Homo sapiens: one gene and its partners. The protein of the gene in region 1 interacts with the protein of each later gene in a pairwise test. Each region holds a gene or a part of one and is shown on either strand. Other genes may lie near its edges.

Region 1 (3,748 bases):
AGCTGTCCTGAGTTGCATCAATAAATGGACACCTCTTTTCTTTCTTTCTTTCTTTCTTTCTTTCTTTCTTTCTTTCTTTCTTTCTTTCTTTCTTTCTTTCTTTCTTTCTTTCTTTCTTTCTTTCTTTTTTTTTTTGAGATGGAGTCTCGCTCTGTCACTTGCCCAGGCTGGAGTGCAGTGGTGTGATCTCGGCTCACAGCAACCTCTGCCTCCTGGGTCCAAGCATTTCTCCTGCCTCAGTCTCCTGAGTAGCTGGCATTACAGGCATGCATCACCACACCTGGCTAATTTTGTATTTTTAGTAGAGATGGGGTTTTGCCATGTTGGCCAGGCTGGTCTCGAACTCCTGACCTCAAGTGATCTGCCCATCTCAGCCTCCCAAAGTGCTGGGATTACAGGTGTGAGCCACCACGCCTGGCCTGGACCTCTTTTGAGGGTTGTTTTTGTAATACACACAGGCAATCGGAAACTGTCATTCACTCATTCACTCATGTTTACCGAGTGCCTACCACTACCTGGCTGGTACTGTGCAAGCAAAGATGAGCAAGCCTTCCAGGAGCTTACAGATATAGTAGGTGAGGCAGACAAGTAGCCCAGCTATTGCAATGCTTTCCAACAGATGATAAGGAAGAGTTACATAATTCGGATTATGGGGACAGACAAGAGAAACATTTCTGGGCAGTAGTTTCAGGAGAAACTACGGTAGAGGAAGGGGGACATTTGGACTTCATATTTTGCTTTGCTTTTCCTATAGTCACAAAATACTTAATATTTAACCTCAGATCCACTCCTAAGCATACACTCAAGGGAAATGAAAGCTGAGACTCAACAGTATTATTCACAATTGCCAAAAAGTGGAAATAATTCAATTGTCCGTTGATGGATGAATAGATAAAACATGACACATATATATTATGATATATCATTATATACAGGGTTAGGGTTAGGCATGCAGCTCCTTGAGCAGGGACTAAAACACAGACCCAGGACACGATGTTCTTTTGCCTGCCTTATATAATAATAATAATAGTTCATATCACATTTTATGCCAAGTGAGATTCTAAGCACTTTAGAAATATTAACTCATTCAATCCTCTCAACAGCTCACGATGTAGGAATGCTTCTCATTTTAGAAGTGAGGAAACTGGCCGGGCTCGGTGGCTCACACCGGTAATCCCAGCACTTTGGGAGGCTGAGGTGGGCGGATCATGAGGTCAGGAGATCAAGACCATCCTGGCTAACATGGCGAAACCCCATCTCTACTAAAAATACAAAAAATCAGCCAGGTGTGGTGGCAGGCGCCTGTAGTCCCAGCTACTCGGGAGGCTGAGGCAGGAGAATGGTGTGAACCTGGGAGGCAGAGCTTGCAGTGAGCCGAGATCACGCCACTGCACTCCAGCCTGGGTGACAGAGCGAGACTCCGTCTCAAAAAAAATCAAAATAAAAATTAAAAAATAGAAGTAAGGAAACTGAAGCATAGAAAATGTGCATAATCTGCCGAGATGATCCAGTCAGTAAGTGATGGGTCTGCTTGCTGTTTCCAGAGCCCTTAACTACTACACCGTACTGCCAGATCTTAATTTTCATGTTCTACCCTCAAAGGTAGGAATTCTGTCCATCTCTAGTAGGATATATTGGGGAAAAAAATGCCCCCTATTCTTCACCCCTCCCTTATCCATGTCCGCTGTAATGTGACTTGGAAGTTCAGCCCATCAAGAGGCAAAATCGACTTTCCTAATCCATGAAGCTGGACTGGCCTTGCAGTCTGCATTGGCCAATGGAATGTGGTGGAAGGAAGAGGATCTGGTTTAAAGCCAACACTTCAAAAGACCTTTTCTGCTTTGCCTTTCTGAGAACCCTGCTGCTGCCATGTAATCAGGTCTAGGCTAGTCTACTAGAAAATGAGAGATCATGTAGTAAGAGAGCCCAGTTGTCCAGGTTGAAGCCACCTGCATTAGTCCATTTTCACACTGCTGTAAAGAAATACCCAAGCCTGCGTAATTTATAAAGGAAAGGGATTTGATTGACTCACAGTTCCACATGGTTGGGGAGGTCTCAGGAAACTTACAAACATGGCAGAAGGTGAAGGGGAAGCAAGGACCTTCTTCACAAGGCAGCAAGAGAGAGAAGAAGAACAAAGGAGGAACTTCCAAACACTTATAAAACCATCACTCACTATCATTAGAACAGCATGGGGGAAATCAACCCCATGACCTGATCACTTCCCTCCCTTGACACTTGGGGATTCCAGGCCCCTCCCTAGACACACGGGAATTACAATTCGAGATGAGAATTGGGTGGGGACACAGAGCCAAACCATATCACCACCCAAGACCAGTCTACATTTAACCAACCCCAAAATATGTAAAAGAACCCAGCCATGATCAGCCAAACTCGGCCCAGAGGCAGGATAATTTTTAAGGCTCTTCATACATATCAGCCAACTGCTTTCTAGGATGGTTATAAGGAAGAACAACATCATGACTGGAGGAGACAAAATAAGGTCAGTTGGCACTGCAGACTGTGGGAACAACATGGGCAAAAGAAAGCTGGAAGAGTGTGAGATATGCTCAGAGAACTATGAGCAGCCCATTTTGACTAAAAACCATTGTTCTTAAGGGGACTAGTGGAATAAAAGAACCTGGAGAAGTAAAGTAGACTGGCTTAGTCGTTTCTACCAATTTAGTAGGTGTTGAGAAGCCTTTGTATGTATAACATGTTCGTTTTCTCCTAACAGTACCATGCGGGTAATGTTATGATTTCCAGTTACAGAGAAGAGGCCCAAGGTCAGGATTTGAATATAGGCAATCTGGTATCAGAGCCTGCCTTATCCACTTACTGCAAAGCCGTAATGGAGAGACTAAAGGTGCAGAGAACAGCACTTTCATTGTTGTGAAAATACAATTAGCCAAGAAAGAAATTGTGAGGGCCTGACCTGAGGAAGTGTTAGTGGAGACCAACAGGAAGCAAGAACTGTGAGCAACACAGCAAGAGGAAGGGCTACAGGGCTTGGCAGTGGATTGAGTGGCCATGGCGAGAATGAGGGTAGTCACAGGGCAAGGCTAAGATGACAAGCCCAGGCAACTGCAAGAGGATGGGTGTCATCAGTCATCTCATTTGCAGAACGCACAAACCGGTTCCAACCAATGGATTCTGAAATGCCTGTGTGGGGTGAACACATGGAGAACTGCAAGTGCACTGCATGAAGCAGGAGTGAAGGCATGAGAAACGTGCTCAAGGTCATCTGCAGGGAGCTAAATCTCCACTTCCTCGTGTGTCAAATGAAGATGTTGTGCTAACCGCTCTTGGATTTTATCCAGCATTAACAGCAGATAAAACTCCTATCAATGACGATCCACTGAGTTTTGCTTAAAACTGATTTTTTGTTGGTATTCAATTATGAAGAAATGTAATTACTTAGATATTGTTTCACACCGTACTTGATTTTCACCTATTTGAGTTTCTACTGAAAATTGATTTTATTACTTTTGTACCTATAAGCTTCTAAAAATCTAATATTTAGTTTTTGCTTGTTTTTTTAGTTTTGTTGGTAAGACTCAAAATCAAAATTTAGAAAGAAAAGAGGAAAAGTAGCTAATATTTATTGCACAACTACTATGTACCTGGCACTCTGAATACACACACACACACAAATATATATTTCCTCCATAAATATAGTCTTGTGTCAGCCAGGCGCCGTGGCTCACGCCTGTAATCCCAGCACTTTGGGAGGCCGAGACAAGAGGAT
Region 2 (3,748 bases), on another chromosome or scaffold:
GTCCAGCATGGCCCCAAACCGGGTTCCTGGAAGATTAGGTGGGCAAGGGCTGTTATGGCACAGTGGATGCAGGACAGGTGCCCATATTTGGTTTATCACTCTGACGCAGGGTGTAAACGAAGACTGGAAGTGTCCGCCTGCCTGGGGAGGAACGCAGGCTAGAAAACAGGCTGTGTGTGAGGTCAGTGGGCAAAGGTCACCATGGCATGAACTGAGAAAGGCATGAGAGTGGAGGGAACAGGGTAGGAGGAGAGGAAAGCTATGTCTGCAACTCATCAACCCCAGAACCAAGACTCCAGGGCTAGATAGAGACTTGATGCCTCAGGGGAAGCCTTACAGTTGGGTCTGGAGAACAGATTAAAAAATTAGTCAACCCTCCAGAAGCCATCACCCTTCCCTCTCCATCCTCCCTCTAAGCATGCCTTCTGGAACCCCAACTGCTTATGCAGGGCACACAGTAGGCCTCCAGTAAACACCTGTTGAATACACTGTTTTTTGTTTTTTGTTTTTTTTTTTCCGAGACAGAGTCTTGCTCTGTCGCCCAGGCTGGAGTGCAATGGCGCAATCTTGGCTCACTGCAACCTCCGCCTCCCGGGTTCAAGCAATTCTCCTGCCTTAGCCTCCCGAGTAGCTGGGATTACAGGCACGCGTCACCAAGCCCGCTAATTTTTGTATTTTTAGTAGAGACAGGGTTTCACCATGTTGGCCAGGCTGGTCTCGAACTCCTGAACTCGTGATCCACCCACCTCGGCCTCCCAAAGTGCTGGGATTACAGGCGTGAGCCACCGCCCCTGGCCTGAATGGACTTGTATTCAGAGAGACCTCCAGCAGCGCCACCGCCATGTCATGTCTTGCTAATCCACACCTCTCACAAGCAGTGAGTTCTCAAGAGCTAGCTTAAATTCCTTTTGCTACAAAATCAGTCCATTCTTGCTGGGCGCGGCACTTTGGGAGCAAGGCAGGAGGATCGCTTGAGGCTAGGAGCTGGGGACCAATCTGGGCGACACTGCAAGACCCAGTCTCTACAAAAATTTAAAAATTAGCCGGGTGTGGTGGCACGCTCCTGTAGTCCCAGCTAGTCAGGAGGCTGAGGTGGGAGGATTACTTGAGCCCAGAAGATGGGGGCTGCAGTGAGCCATGATCGCGCCACTGCACTCCAGCCTAAGTGACAGAGCGAGACCCTGTCTCAAAAACAAAAAAACAAAACACAAAACAAAAAGCCCCAGGCCATCCTGTTCTGCTTTTTCCAGAGATGGGAATGACAGCCCTCTGACTCTGAGGTCCCGAGGAGGCAGGGGAAGGGAGGAGGGGATTGTTGAACCCCAAGGCTGGCTGAGAGGGGTGTCTGTCACCTTGATTAAGAGCGCGAGCAGCGTGTCCATCGAAAGCGTCCAGCAGGCCGCTGAGCAGGTAGAAGGAGGAGGCCGTGAGGGGGCAGCAGGGCATGAAGTAGAAAGAAATGATGGCGAAGACAATCCGGGCATAACCTTGGAACGGGACGCGGGGAGACAGGGCAGGATCAGGGAGCCCGCCAAGGCCCCTCGCCCTCTCGTTCGGCCCGGGGCCGTGGGCAGCACTCACCGATGAGGTTGGGCACGAACAGGAAGATATTTTCGTCTGGCATCGCGGCGCCTCCCTTGCTGCCCCGGGCCTGCTCTGGAGATGCCAGTGCTGTCCCAGCCCCGCAGCGCGGCCTCAGCCTCCGGCCCGGCGCATCGGCCGCACCACCTGCGCCCTGGACCCCGCCGCCCCAACCTGGCCCCAGATGCTGAAGCCCGCAGCCGTCGGGAGCATGGACCGGCCCCGAGGTGCGCGGGACGCAGGGGGCGCGCGCAGTCCGCCCTTCCTACCCGCAACCTCCCTCGCCTCTGCCAGCCCCGCAGGCGCTCCGGGCCTCCAGCTGCGGTCGCCGCTGCTCCAGCTGCGCGTGGCTTCCGGGAACCTCCTCCTCCGCGCCCGTCGTTGCAAAATTGGAGAGAGGAAAAAGTGGCTTAAAAAAATAGTTGCGGCCCCTTTAAGGCCTGTCGGCTTCCTTTCCCTTTTCCTCCCTCCGCCCCTCTCCCTTGGCTCGTACCAAAGCGCAGAGGAGGAGAGGGAGGAAGGAACCATTAACGTCAAGCAAAGTTAGAAACGGAAAAGGAAAGGGTAAAAGAGAAGACCGAATAAAAATCTCTGCTTTCCTTTTGTGGAGGGTATGACTTCCTGGAGGCAAAGATAAGGCGATAAAATTCCTCCTCCTGAGTCTTTGCGTCCCCAAGAGGCCAGGAGATTTGGTGCAGTCCTCACTTTACTCCCCGCCCCCTAAGTCTCCAGCCGCCTTTGCTCTCGCAGGCTCTAGGCGGCTAGAGAGGCTCCAGAGCGCCCTGCAGATGGGTTGCTTTTCGCGTGCCCCTTGTGATGGGAGGATTAGGTCGCAGGCTCCACCCTACGTCATCCTCCCAAGCTTCTCAAGCGTCTGGCGCTTGGGGTCACTGCCCTCAAGGAGGCACCTGGAGGGGTACGGAGGGGAGGCTGGAGGAGCAAACGGGGCGCGCTAGGAAATTCCTCTGTCTTTAGTTCTAGAACCCCTGATCTCCTAGCAACGAGGCTGCGGAACCTCTGCAGACTCCAAGGGTTTTATAGCGTCCGGTAGCGACACGGAGCCGGCTCCCCCTTTTCCAGCCTTCCTCCCCATCTCCCATTCTCCATCCCCCACGACCTATACCAGAGGTCCTTAGGCCTCCACGTCTCTCCTTTTGCCGAGTAGCCCAAGGTTTCCACCCATCTGCCAGGTCTGGGGCGTCAAGTCGGCTGCCTCGGCTTGGGAAGGTGCTTGGGAGGGAAGAAGGAAGGAGAGGCCCACCAGGCGAAGGGGTGAGGGGTAGGGGGTTGCGGGAGTTCCCTCTCACTCCCGAAGATATAAAGCAACCTTTATTATTATTATTATTTTTTCTTGTGAGAGGGAATGAGGCAGCGGGATGTTTCCTCTAAAGGCCTTGTTTAAACCTGGGCCCGGGGAATGGTGGTGGACTGGGTTCTGGGGGAAAGCGGGCTGGTTTCTCAGGTCAACTCAGGCTTCGACTGTTCCCAGGGGGATGGCGTCCACTCCGATGGGGAATGAGGGGGAGAAGAAGAGCAGCTGGCCATCTCAAGCTGCACCCTCCTTGAGAGGAGGTCCGGTGAGCACTGCAGGGAACCCTAGAGGTGGGAATGTAATGAAGTGAAAGCCTCCCAGGCAGAGGCACCCCGTGCCAGGTCTGAGCCACGGGCCCTGAGACTCTAGCCTCAACCCTGAGTCCTGAAGCCCCGACTCATAGCTCTCAGCACTAGGCCCTGACTCTAAACCCCCACCAAACCCCCCTCCCCCAGGTCCAGAGCTTTCTAGCTAAATCTCAAGGCCCAGTCCTTCAGGAGCAAGCTCCTTGGACCCACAGGCCCCAGCCTGGGAACTCCCACAGCCAGCACTCCCATGTGGGAGCTCCCAGGCTGAACCCCTCCGGCTTTTCCTTTCCCAGGCTTCGTTATCTCGTTCTGAGGAATACCTGTCCCAGATCAGTGCAGAACTCATGGAGGAGGCTTTGTGCACTGCTTGCTGCCACTTGAACCCTGTGCCCATCAAAAAAAAGCAGTCACAAGACCAAGCGACTCAGATATCCAAACGCGGTAACCCCCTGCCTCAGGACCACCGTGTCTAGAGAACCGCTGCCCCCACTATGCCTGGTTACAGTCCCTGACCCCTCCCACCCCTAGCTGAACTCTCCAGGAGTCT
Region 3 (3,748 bases), on another chromosome or scaffold:
AACATAGATATTATACTACCCAATGTACTATTTTCTGTTTTTAAATTTTTCGTGATAATTTTTAATTTTTAAAAAGGTAATGGGCAGCAGGATGCATATGAATTGGGTGACCAGTTAGGAAACTATTGCAATTCTCCAGATAAGAGATGATGAGGGTCTGACCTCCAGTCTTAGCTGTGTCAAGGGAGAAGGTGTTAGAAATGACACAAGTTTCTAGCTTAGTTGACTGAGCTGATGGTACTGCTCTTAAGAAAACAACTATTTAAATTTAATTTGTGCTATTCTGGATATTACACAAATAACCCAGAAGACTTGGACCAACTCTAACAGTTAGAATAGAGGGCAAATGGTAGTTGAAGCTGGCTGGCGCCATTAGAAATGTTGCCCTTCAATCCCCCTTAGTAGCTTAAGAGTTCGTGAGACATTGGATTTATATATGGTATGGCTTTAAAGTAATAAGATAAATATTCCCAAGCTCTTTTAAGAATGGAGCTCATAATTTTATAAGCAAACTATACATTTTCTTACTAAGCATAGAAAAGAAGGGCTGGGTATAGTATAGAGTGCTGCTATAGAGGAAGAGAGAACATCTAGTCATTTTTATCTTATTTAAATGTGAGAATAATATCTGTGATAATTTCCCATATTAGAATAGCTAAATTATTGTTATTGAGTACAATACAATAAAATATAAAAACGGGTTCATGCCATCATTAAACCTTCTTTGAGAAGTGATGGCTTGGCCAACCCGATTTCAAGGGTAAGTCCATTTACTTAATATCTGTGGCATTTAAAGCAGGTAGACTGGAGTGAAAAAAAATAATTTAAATTTGAACAGTTCAGCAGCTGACAACAAAAGCAACTACAGGGCTAATGTTTTCCTTCTGTGCTCAATGCTGTGAGGTTTTTCTCTGAGAGAGTTTGTTCAAAACCTTTTAGATGTGTGTGTTCATTTAATGGTTGTTTCTACATACCCTTTCATCCAGCTGTCAGAGAAAATAGGAATAAATGGACTGATCCCTGCACAGGTAACCTAATGGATTAAAAATACGGTACTCATCACCAGGTTGATCATCATGAGCGAGAATACTAACTGCCATTATAAGATGACTTATAAGATGACTTACTATCTAAGACAAATGTGGATTCCTCAGAGGGTAATGTGGCCTAAGTGCTGCTGCTGGAGGGAGATATCTCACCCATCCCCCGATTTTCACACTGACTCAAGCCCTTGAAAGCAACAGAAAACAGTGGGTTACAAGGAGTGAAGTGCTCCTCTGGAAGAGTCCTTTTCACTTTGCTTTATAGCTGTTTTCCAAACCTTCAAAAATAACGGGGGGGGGGGGTTACTTTCACACTTTTATGTTTCTACTTTAAACACTTCACTATCTTTTGAATTTTAAAATATTAGAATAACGCCTCTACCTTTGTAATTAGATAAAATGCAAGCCTGGGGAAAAAATCAGTTGCCAAGCTCCCAAAATGCCACCGATGTAGCATCTGCTCTTAACACGTTGATAGAAAAAGGAGGATCAGTAAACCTAGGTCTCTTCCTTGCATCCCTCTCCTGGACGGTGTTGTGGGTTGGAAGCGCTGCAGAGCCTCGGTCTATCCGCTCTCTGGATCTCACAGCACTGCAGCCTGGGAACACCCCACTTGAACTCTAAGCTTCTCCCCAACCCTGTTGCAGATTCAAACTGGCGACAGGAAAACAATGCCCCCCATGTCTCGTCTTCAGAATGTGCACCTGGCCACCTCCCAGGAGCTAGAGAGGGATTAAGGTCTCGGTCATAAGAGATCTGAATCAGGCACTGACACTTCCTTTTCTTAAGAGCATGAAACAAAACAGTCCTTCCTTCTCTGCCTCCAATTAAGTATTTATTAGCCGGGCCTTGGGTCCAGATCAGCGGTAAGGGTGGTCTGCGAGGTCCGTGCACCGCCGTCCGCCCACGCCTTCTTCCAACCACCTCAGCCCGACCCTCCACTTTTCTCCCTTCCCCGCAGCCGCCCCGCTTTCCTCACCTCTGCCCCCTTCACCTGGATCCACTCTCCCCCAGGCTCTACTCACACCTCAGATTCCGGCGCGTTCCAGCCCACGGGGCTCTGGTTTACTTAGGGCGAATCACAAGTGGGCTTTCATTTAGGTGATTTAAGATTCACTAATCAGCGTTGCTCTTTCAACGGCCAACTTCTTCCTCATTAGCTTACGCCTAGCGCGGCTCCCGGCAACGCCGAGCGCGGTGGGTTGGCTCGTCACCCTTCGTTACGCCCTCCGATTGGTCGGTGCCTGTCAGCCTTTGGACCGACCTCAGTTCGGTTGGGTAGCAGCGGTCCGAGCTGCACTCCCCGCCCCCCCGCCACTCCACTGTCAATCACACCATCTCTCCGTAACTCATTGGGCCATTGGTCAGTCTAGCCTGAGGGCGGGTTGTTGGGCGGAAGAGAGAGACTTCTTCCGGCCTCACTCGCTGTCACCATAGAGATTGCCCATCCAGGCAGCGAAGCAGCAGGGCCAGGCAGCTCAGATCTCGAACTCCAGAGAACTGCACAGTCATCTAGACATCAATGCCTTTTCCGGGGCCTGATGAACATCTCAATCCCCAACCCACTAGCTCGAGTGGGGCGCAAGATGTGGTGGACAAGTCAGCTCAGGCCCGGTCATTAAGTGTCCCCAACAACCCTCCTGGAGGGAACTGAGGACGAAGCACCAGTTGTAATAACGGCACGCTTCATTTATCTTTATCTCGACTTGTTTTATTTGGTATTTAATTCTTCCATTAGCCTTGCGAAACAGACAAAGGCAAAGATCATTCTACCCACGGGACAGACTGGGGAAGAGGCCCAGGGTCCATCAAGTAAACCCTCTGCCGCCAGGCTGCTGGAACTGGAGCTGGCCCACGCTATTGGCAGACTGCTGTTACCTAACTGCCAACTAAAGCTTGCCATGACTTTGCTTTGAGGCTATGGCCTGTTAGACCAAAAGATGCATCAATCAGGACAACCAAAGGAAGTAGGACAGAGGCTGCGTGCTCCACCACTGAATCAAGAAGGGGAAACAAACAATAATCAATACCAAATTGGAGAGCTGCACCGTTTGAACCTTTGACCTTAAACAAAATTTTAAGAAATATCATGAAGCAACCTATTCAATCTTAGAGCACTGAATCTCTGATTTAAGGAATTCTCCTGAATCACAGCTTTATGAACCAAAAAGAAGAAGATGCTTGAATTTCATCAACTGCACGTCTCAAATTTATTCAACTTTCGAGGCTTCATTTACAATCACATAAAGTAACCAATGATTTGTTGTGCGTTTAGCAACTTAACATTACTTGGCCCAGTGAGAAGCTCTGTGGCTAAGAAATCCTTTATTTTGATGAATTCATTTCACTGGAACTGAGTGTTGACTGCAGCTATGTTCTGTTAGGAACTGCGAAGATATACAAGAAATGAGATGTGACTCCCATCTTAATAGCCCGTGGTTTTGTAATGTTAGGTCAACAACACATGAAACAAGTAGGAAACACTTTAAAGCAAGATATAACAATGGGCCAACCCTATTGTACAATTAATTTCTCCAAAATATAATAATACTTCATATTTGCAGAACATTTCGTAGTTTCCAGAGCACTTCTTCCCTTGTATTATTTGGGGGATATTTTGTTATGGCTGGAATTAATGTGTGTGTCTTTATCATAGAGCTAGAACTAATGCTGGGTCCTAGCATATGAGTAGGAACAGGAAAGGT

The links.
Region 2: the proteins of SLC10A6 (region 1) and CDIPT interact in binary tests that used the Homo sapiens proteins (3 or more experiments, as listed by UniProt).
Region 3: the proteins of SLC10A6 (region 1) and TMEM218 interact in binary tests that used the Homo sapiens proteins (3 or more experiments, as listed by UniProt).

The regions. Positions count from the first base shown.
Region 1 is NC_000004.12:86,842,751-86,846,498, forward strand, and holds part of SLC10A6 (sodium-dependent organic anion transporter), read right to left. Parts: intron 1-3,748. UniProt on the Homo sapiens protein: Transports sulfoconjugated steroid hormones from the extracellular compartment into the cytosol in a sodium-dependent manner without hydrolysis.
Region 2 is NC_000016.10:29,861,234-29,864,981, forward strand, and holds the start of CDIPT (CDP-diacylglycerol--inositol 3-phosphatidyltransferase), read right to left. Parts: upstream 1,994-3,748; 5' UTR 1,625-1,993; coding exon 1,582-1,624; intron 1,488-1,581; coding exon 1,353-1,487; intron 27-1,352; coding exon 1-26. UniProt on the Homo sapiens protein: Catalyzes the biosynthesis of phosphatidylinositol (PtdIns) as well as PtdIns:inositol exchange reaction. May thus act to reduce an excessive cellular PtdIns content.
Region 3 is NC_000011.10:125,109,517-125,113,264, forward strand, and holds the start of TMEM218 (transmembrane protein 218), read right to left. Parts: upstream 2,111-3,748; 5' UTR 2,023-2,110; intron 1,231-2,022; exon of another isoform or gene 1,128-1,230; intron 1,034-1,127; exon of another isoform or gene 975-1,033; intron 1-974. UniProt on the Homo sapiens protein: May be involved in ciliary biogenesis or function.